2 linked regions of the Homo sapiens genome follow. The protein of the gene in region 1 interacts with the protein of each later gene in a pairwise test. Each region holds a gene or a part of one and is shown on either strand. Other genes may lie near its edges.

Region 1 (3,749 bases):
GACTACAGATGCCCGCCACCATGCCTGGCTAATTTTTTCTATTTTTAGTAGAGATGTGGTTTCACTGTGTCAGCCAGGATGGTCTCAATCTCCTGACCTCGTGATCCGCCCTCCTCGGCATTCCAAAGTGCTGGGATTACAGGTGTGAGCCACCACACTTGGGCTAAATTTTTTTGTAGAGATGGAATCCTTGTATGTTTCCCAGGGTGCTCTCCAACCCCTGGCCTCAAGTGATTCTCTAGCCTCGGCCTCCCAAAGTGTTGGGATTACAAACATGAGCCACTGCACCCGGCCCTAAAATGGAATTTTATGTAACTCTTACACACAGGCTGCTATGTAGCTGATAAGGATAAATGTTTTCAGTGTAGTGCTTGATTATTTGCTTTTTTCTTTTCTTTTCTTTTCTTTTTTTTTTTTTTAAGACGGAGTCTTGATCTGTGACTGGGCTGGAGTGCAGTGGCATGATCTTGGCCACTGCAACCTCTGCCTCCTGGATTCAAGCGATTTGTGTGCCTCAGCCTTCTGAGTAGCTGGGACTGACCATAGATAGGCGCGCGCCACCACGCCCAGCTAATTACTGCTATCTTGTATTTTAATTTTTTCTGCTTATTAGATGTTTGAAATGGTGGCTCACGCCTGTAATCCTCGCACTTTGGGAGGCCAAAGTGGGAGGATTGCTTGAGGTCAGGGGTTGGAGACCAGCCTGGGCAAAATAGCAAGACTGCATCTCTACAAAAAAAAAAAAAAGATAGCCGGGCGCAGTGGCTCACGCCTGTAATCCCAGTACTTTGGGAGGCTGAGGCAGGCGGATCACGAGGTCAGGAGATCAAGACCATCCTGGCTAACACGGTGAAACCCTGTCTCTACTAAAAATACAAAAAATTAGCTGGGCATGGTGGCAGGCGCCTGTAGTCCCAGCTACTCGGGAGGCTGAGGCAGGAGAATGGCGTGAACCTGGGAGGTGGAACTTGCAGTGAGCCGAGATGGCGCCACTGCACTCCAGCCTGGGCGACAGAGCCAGACTCCGTCTCAAAAAAAAAAAAAAAAAAAAGATGCTTGACGTGAATGTATACTCATTTCCTAGTTGTTTCTTTCTATAAGGATGTCTGACCTGGCTAATTTGTAAACAGGAATTCTGCATTCATTTCTCTCTTTGCTTTCTCAACCCCAATTGAGCACACAAGTGTTTAATGAGTACTTAACTGATTTGATAAGAATAACTCATTGATTTCTTTGATTTTTTGTTGCTGGTTTTCAGTGAAAAAAATGTTATCAGCCGCACACGGTGGCTCACGCCTGTAATCCCAGCACTTTGGGAAGCTGAGGCGGGTGGATCATGAGGTCACGAGATCCAGACCATCCTGGCTAACATGGTAAAACCCCATCTCTAATAAAAATACAAAAAATTAGCCGGGCATGGTTGCAGGCGCCTGTAGTCTCAGTTACTCAGGAGGCTGAGGCAGGAGAATGGCGTGAACCCGGGAGGCGGAGCTTGCAGTGAGCCGAGATTGTGCCACTGCACTCCAGCCTGAGCGACAGAGCGAGACTCCATCTCAAAAAAAAAAAAAATGATATCAGTACTTACTCATTGTGATGTCTACATATAGAACTAAAATTCTGTTTACTTATGTGAGTCTTTGGCTAGAGACATAGAATTTCAGTCTTGACTGTGTGAGCTTAATTTCTGGCATGTGGGTTTTTATTGGCTGCAGAGGAAACATCTCTAGCAGAGATGACCTATCCCTCAAATGTAGGAAATACCTGTGTAAACCTAACACCTGTGACTCAGAATAGAAATGGTACCAAGTGAGTGGCTTCTTAGCCCATCAGTAAAGTTATCACACCATAGGCTGGGTGCGGTGGCTCACACCTGTAATCCCAACACTTTGGGAGGCTGAGGTGGGCAGATCACTTAAGGCCAGGAGTTTGAGACCAGCCTGGATCAAGATGGCAAAACTCCGTCTCTACTAAAATGCAAAAAACTTAGCCAGGCATGGTGATGTGCGCCTGTGATCTCAGCTACTCGGGAGTCTGAGGCACAAGAATCTCTTGATCCCGGGAGGCGGAAATTGCAATGAGCCGAGATTGTGCCACTGCACTCCAGCTTGGGCAACAGAGTGAGACTCTATCTCAAAAAAAAAAAAAAAAAAGTGATCACACTAAAACCAAGAGTTTCAGGCTGGTGCAGTGGCTCATGCCTATAATACCAGTGCTTTGGGAGGCCAAAGTGGGAGAATCGCTTGAGCCTAGGAGTTCCAGGCTGCAGTGAGCTGTGATCAAGCCACTGCACTACAGCCTGAGTGACAGAGTGATACCCTGTCTCTATAAAAAGAAGTTTCATAGTACAGGCCAAACATCTTGAAAATCTTATTAAATGTACACTTCTTTCATAGAGCACTGTAGAAACATCATGTGTGTTGTTTCACATGGCTGAAGTGAGTTTAAATGATCTGGACTATTGTTACAATATGTAAACATGTGAAATAACAGTTATCCCACTTAATATTATTTAACTTATGTTTATCTCTTTGATGTTTGGATAAAGCTCCTAAAATGCTTTAGGAAAACATTATACTTTTATGGTGCTGTTTTGAAGTTTCCTGTGAAATTCCTGTTTTCAATGAAGTTACTGTCAGTGGGATAGGAAGTGTGATTTTTTTTTTTTACTTTTCTTTTTTTCTTTTTGAGACGGAGTCTTGCTCTGTTGCCCAGGCTGGAGTGCAGTGGCGCGATCTTGGCTCACTGCAACCTCTGCTTCCTGGGTTCAAGGATTCTTCTGCCTCAGCCTCCCGAGTAGTTAACCACCATACCCAGCTAATTTTTTTTGTATTTTTAGTAGAGACGGGGTTTCACCATATTGGCCAGGCTGATCTCGAACTCCTGACCTCGTGATCCACCCGCCTCGGCCTCCCAAAGTGCTGCGATTACAGGCGTGAGCCACCGTGCCCGGCAGGAAGTGCAATTTTTATTTATAATATAACCTTTTTTTTTTTTTTTTTTTTTTGAGAACAGAGTCTTGCTCTGTCACCCAGGCTGGAGTGTGGTGGCACGATCTCTACTCACTGCAACTTCCACCTCCCCGGTTCAAGCGATTCTTGTGCCTCAGCCACCTGAGTAGCTGGGAATATGGGCTCCTGCCACCACGTCCGGCTAATTTTTTTTTTTGCTGGAGTGAGACTGAGTTTCAGCCTTGTTGCCCAGGCTGGAGTGCAATAGTGCGATCTTGGCTTACTACAACCTCTGCCTCCTGGGTTCAAGTGATTCTCCTGCCTCAGCTTCCCAAGTAGCTGGTGTTAACAGGCACGCGCCACCATGCTGAGCTAATTTTTTTATTTTTAGTAGAGACGGGGTTTCACCATGTTGGCCAGGCTGGTCTCGAATTTCTGACCTCAGGTGATCCACCTGCCTTGGCCTCCCAAAGTGCTGGGATTACAGGTGTGAGCTACCGTGCCCGGCCCTAGTGGAACATTTTAATTTGTTTCTGGTAGCATAGCTCTCTTGGCAATGGTCATTAAGAGGGCCAAATACCATTATTATGATCAATTAATTAAATGTGGTTAAAAGTCAGAAGTTAGAATAAGTATGTGTTCATGAATGCGTAAAATATTACACACTGAGAGAGTATTAAGCTTTTTAATTTTCCCCCAGTAACAGTGAGCAGATTGCTGAAATCTCTGAAGCAGGAATGTAACAAGAGTTTTGAGGGCTCTAAATTCTCTGCTGTTTCACCCTAAGGAATGGTTTGGCAG
Region 2 (3,749 bases), on another chromosome or scaffold:
GTGGCATTAATAAACATCAAGGTCCTCTTCATCTTTGTTGAAAGATTAGAGATGCTTGGTGTAAGTGACAGCACATGCTTCTGAGTTTTCTCATTCGTCTCTGGCTGCTCTTTCTCAAATCTTCTTCAAGATTTTGTCCTCAGTCCTCTTATTTTCCACCTTTATATGGTTCCACTGGGCAATCATGTTCATTCCCATGGGTGCCTACTTAACACTGCTGACTCCTAAATCTCATCTCTAGCTGCTGCCCAGACTTGCCTCCTGGGATCGAGGAGAGTATATCTGTCTAATCAACATCTCTGCTTGGATTCCCATCTATCCTCAAAATTTATCCCAAACCAAACGTTTTATCTTTATCTCTCTTGCCTTCCCTACTGAATTATGCCGATTTAAAACTTTTAAAGTCGGCCGGGCGTAGTGGCTCACGCCTTTAACCCCAGCACTTTGGGAGGCCAAGGAGGGTGGATCACCTGAGGTCAGGAGTTCGAGACCAGCCTCGCCAACATGGCAGAACCCCGTCTCTACTAAAAATACGAAAAAATTAGCTGGGCATGGTGGCGCACGCCTGTAATCCCAGCTACTCTGGAGGGTAAGGAAGGAGAAATAGCTTGAACCCGGGAGGCGGAAGTTGCAGTGAGCTGAGATCACACCATTGCACTCCAGCCTGGGCAACAAGAGCAAAACTCCGTCTCAGGAAAAAAAACTTTAAAGTCATTCACATTCGTCTGCTTCGTTCCATTCTCACCACCTATGCACTGGTCCAGTACCATTTCTTAAAAAGATGACAACATCTTCCAGCTCCAACCCTCTTCTCCAAACCTAGCCAGAGATCTTTGCAACATGCACATCTCGCCATGTCACTCCTCTGCTTACATGAGCTATTGTCGGCAACGGGATTACAGTGGCTTAGGAGTCAGACACACTTGGGTTTCAGTCTTAACACCATAACTTATTGGCTGCAAAACCGTGGGTGAGTTAATTTCTCTATATCTTAGTTTTCTCATTTGAAAAAAAAAAAAAAAAGAGCCACGAAGAGCACCTCCCACAGGTCTCCCCCAGGGTTGAGACCATACACACCATGTCCTTGGTTCAGAGTCAGGCACATTTGAACTGTTTAATACATTTTAACTGCTATTTTTATTAAACCCTTTCAATCGAGGCAAATCAACCTCTTTCATCCTAAAATGTGGGGATTAGATGGAATGACTTTAATCAACTCTTTTGAGACAAGACACCTTTGGACCCTGAAGCCTCCCTGGGTGCTGGCCACCCCTCCGGGGAGGAGGCATCCGTGGGTGCAGCTGGTACTCCTGCATGAGGACCCAGAGGGTCAGGGTCGGGGACTCCTTCTGCTGCAGGACAGCGCTGACCCCAGGCTTCTTACCCGCCCCCGACCTGTTACCCGGCGACAGTCCCCGCCGCCCCGTCGCCGGGCACAGACTCAGCCGATCCACAGCCATGAGTGCGAAGCCTCTCAGGCAGGGCAGGCAGGCAAACCGCAAACCCACAGGGCGCACCCAGCCCCGCCGCTTCCTCCCGGGCCTCGCCCGCAGCTGGAGGAGAGAGGAAGGAGGAGGCGGCGGGCAGCGGGCAGCGCCCACCCCATCCCACCCCATCCCACCCCACCCGACCCCGCGGGCCCGGCCGCCCGAGCCCGGCCCCAGCCCTGACCCCGGAGTCCCGGTCGCTCACCTTGAAGGACATCCTGCACATGTCCGCGGCCGCCCGAGCGGGAGCCGGCGCGCTTTGGGCCCGGGGCGCCTTGTCCTCCCCGGCCCTTCACTCTCCCGGGGCTCTCGGCGTTCCGCAGAGGGGCGGCCTCCGACGCCGCGCGCTCCCGCCGCCCGGCCCGGCAGCAGCCGCCGCACACAGGGCCGGGCCGAAGGGGCGGCGCGGGGGCGCGCGCGCGCGCACACTACACATGGGGTGTCGCGTGGACGCGCTCCAGGACCTGCCACACACGCGCGTGCACAAACACCCCAAACTCCGCACGCACTGTGCACTTTCCACACACGTCCACACTTCCACACTCACTCGTCCACACACACACTCCAAACTCCACACACATTGTGCATACGCTCCACATTCCACACACACAGAGGTTCCACACACATACTTTCCACACTCACGCCCACTCACCCGCATGTACTCACACACAAACTCCATACATATCCTCCCAAATAGACTGGTCTGCCCCAGAGGACTCCCAACCTTCATTACAGCACAAATATTATAATGATGTAAAAATGAAGCTTGAGGAAAAAATTCATCCAATAGCTATTTTCGTTATAATTTCTTTCTCGGTTTCCTGGGAAACTTTTTTCTCCTGGGGAAAATATCTAGGAAACAAACCTTTTGATTGCACAAACAATAAGTGGTCTTTTCCTCTTTGAAGGGCAAAGGCCAATTTTGGAATAGACTCATACCCCTCCTCCTCCTCCGCGTTATTAATCCAGCAGTTCCCTCCTCCTCTGGGTCTGATGCTGCAGCCCTGGAGTATTGCAGTATGTGTGTCCACTCCTGCTGCCTGCCCAGGATTGGTTTGGGCGAAGTAAAACTGGGAGTTTTAAGTATAAACGGCAACAACAGCTCTTTGAGAGCATTTTAGAAAAGTGAAAGTAAAAAAGTAGCCCAGGCATAGTGGCTCACGCCTATAATCCCAACTCTTTGGGAGGCCAAAGGCGGGCAGATCACTTGAGTCCAGGAGTTCGAGATCAGACTGGCCAACATGGCAAAACTCTATCTCTACTAAAAATACAAAAATTAGCCAGGCGTGGTGGTGCGCACCTGTAGTCCCAGCTACTCGGGAGGCTGAGGTGGGAGGATCGCTTGAACCTGGGAGGTTGAGGCTGCAGTGAGCCAAGATTCGGTCACTGCACTCCAGCCTGGGCAACAGAGCAAGACTCTGCCTCAAAAATAAAAATAAAAACAAAACAAAAAAATAGTATAAAAATGGAGGTCTTACCCCCTCAAACTATAAGAATCCACTCATTCATTCTCCCCCTCCTTCCCTCTTCTCAATTAAATTTGTAACGAATATTTAATTTAAAAGGTAGAAAACAATTACAAATAAAAGTTAATGATAAAAATTAAAATGTTTAACCTTCATGGATAAATTGTATTACTTTGTGCTTAAAACAACTTTAAATTAAAAACATTCTGAACTTTTATAGAAAATTCCAATTTTAAAAATAAGGACTCTAAACATTTTCCTTGCCTTGAGTGCCTATAAATGACACAGTTTTTAAGTTGCCACACAACGTTATTATATAAAAATCAAGCATCAGAGGTTTTGCTTTAATAGTTTTTTGTTTGTTTGTTTGTTTTTTCTTCTCAGATGGAGTTTCGCTCTTTTGCCCAGGCTGAAGTGAAGTGGCATGATCCTGGCTCACTGCAACCTCCACCCCCCGGGTTCAAGCAATTCTCCTGCCTCAGCCTCTCGAGTAGCTGGTATTATAGGCTCCTGTCACCGTGCCCAGCTAATTTTTGTATTTTTAGTAGAGACAGGGTTTCGCCATGTTGGCCAGGCTGGTCTCGAACTACTGACCTCAGGTGATCCACCTGGTTCGGCCTCCCAAGGTGCTAGGATTACAAACGTGAGCCACCGCGCCTGGTCTGCTTTAATAGTTTTGATAAATAAAAGGGAGAAAGGAAAGAACTAATATTTTGAGTGTTTTCTAGGTACAAGGTGCTTTCCTTATAAACATTTTATGGGGTGAGTATTAACCCATTCCACGGATGAAAAAACT

Evidence for each region. The genes of interacting proteins can lie anywhere in the genome.
Region 2: the proteins of RABGEF1 (region 1) and ANKRD29 interact in binary tests that used the Homo sapiens proteins (3 or more experiments, as listed by UniProt).

The regions. Positions count from the first base shown.
Region 1 is NC_000007.14:66,743,637-66,747,385, forward strand, and holds part of RABGEF1 (rab5 GDP/GTP exchange factor), read left to right. Parts: intron 1-3,749. UniProt on the Homo sapiens protein: Rab effector protein acting as linker between gamma-adaptin, RAB4A or RAB5A. Involved in endocytic membrane fusion and membrane trafficking of recycling endosomes. Stimulates nucleotide exchange on RAB5A. Can act as a ubiquitin ligase.
Region 2 is NC_000018.10:23,661,018-23,664,766, forward strand, and holds the start of ANKRD29 (ankyrin repeat domain-containing protein 29), read right to left. Parts: upstream 1,895-3,749; 5' UTR 1,714-1,894; coding exon 1,693-1,713; intron 1-1,692.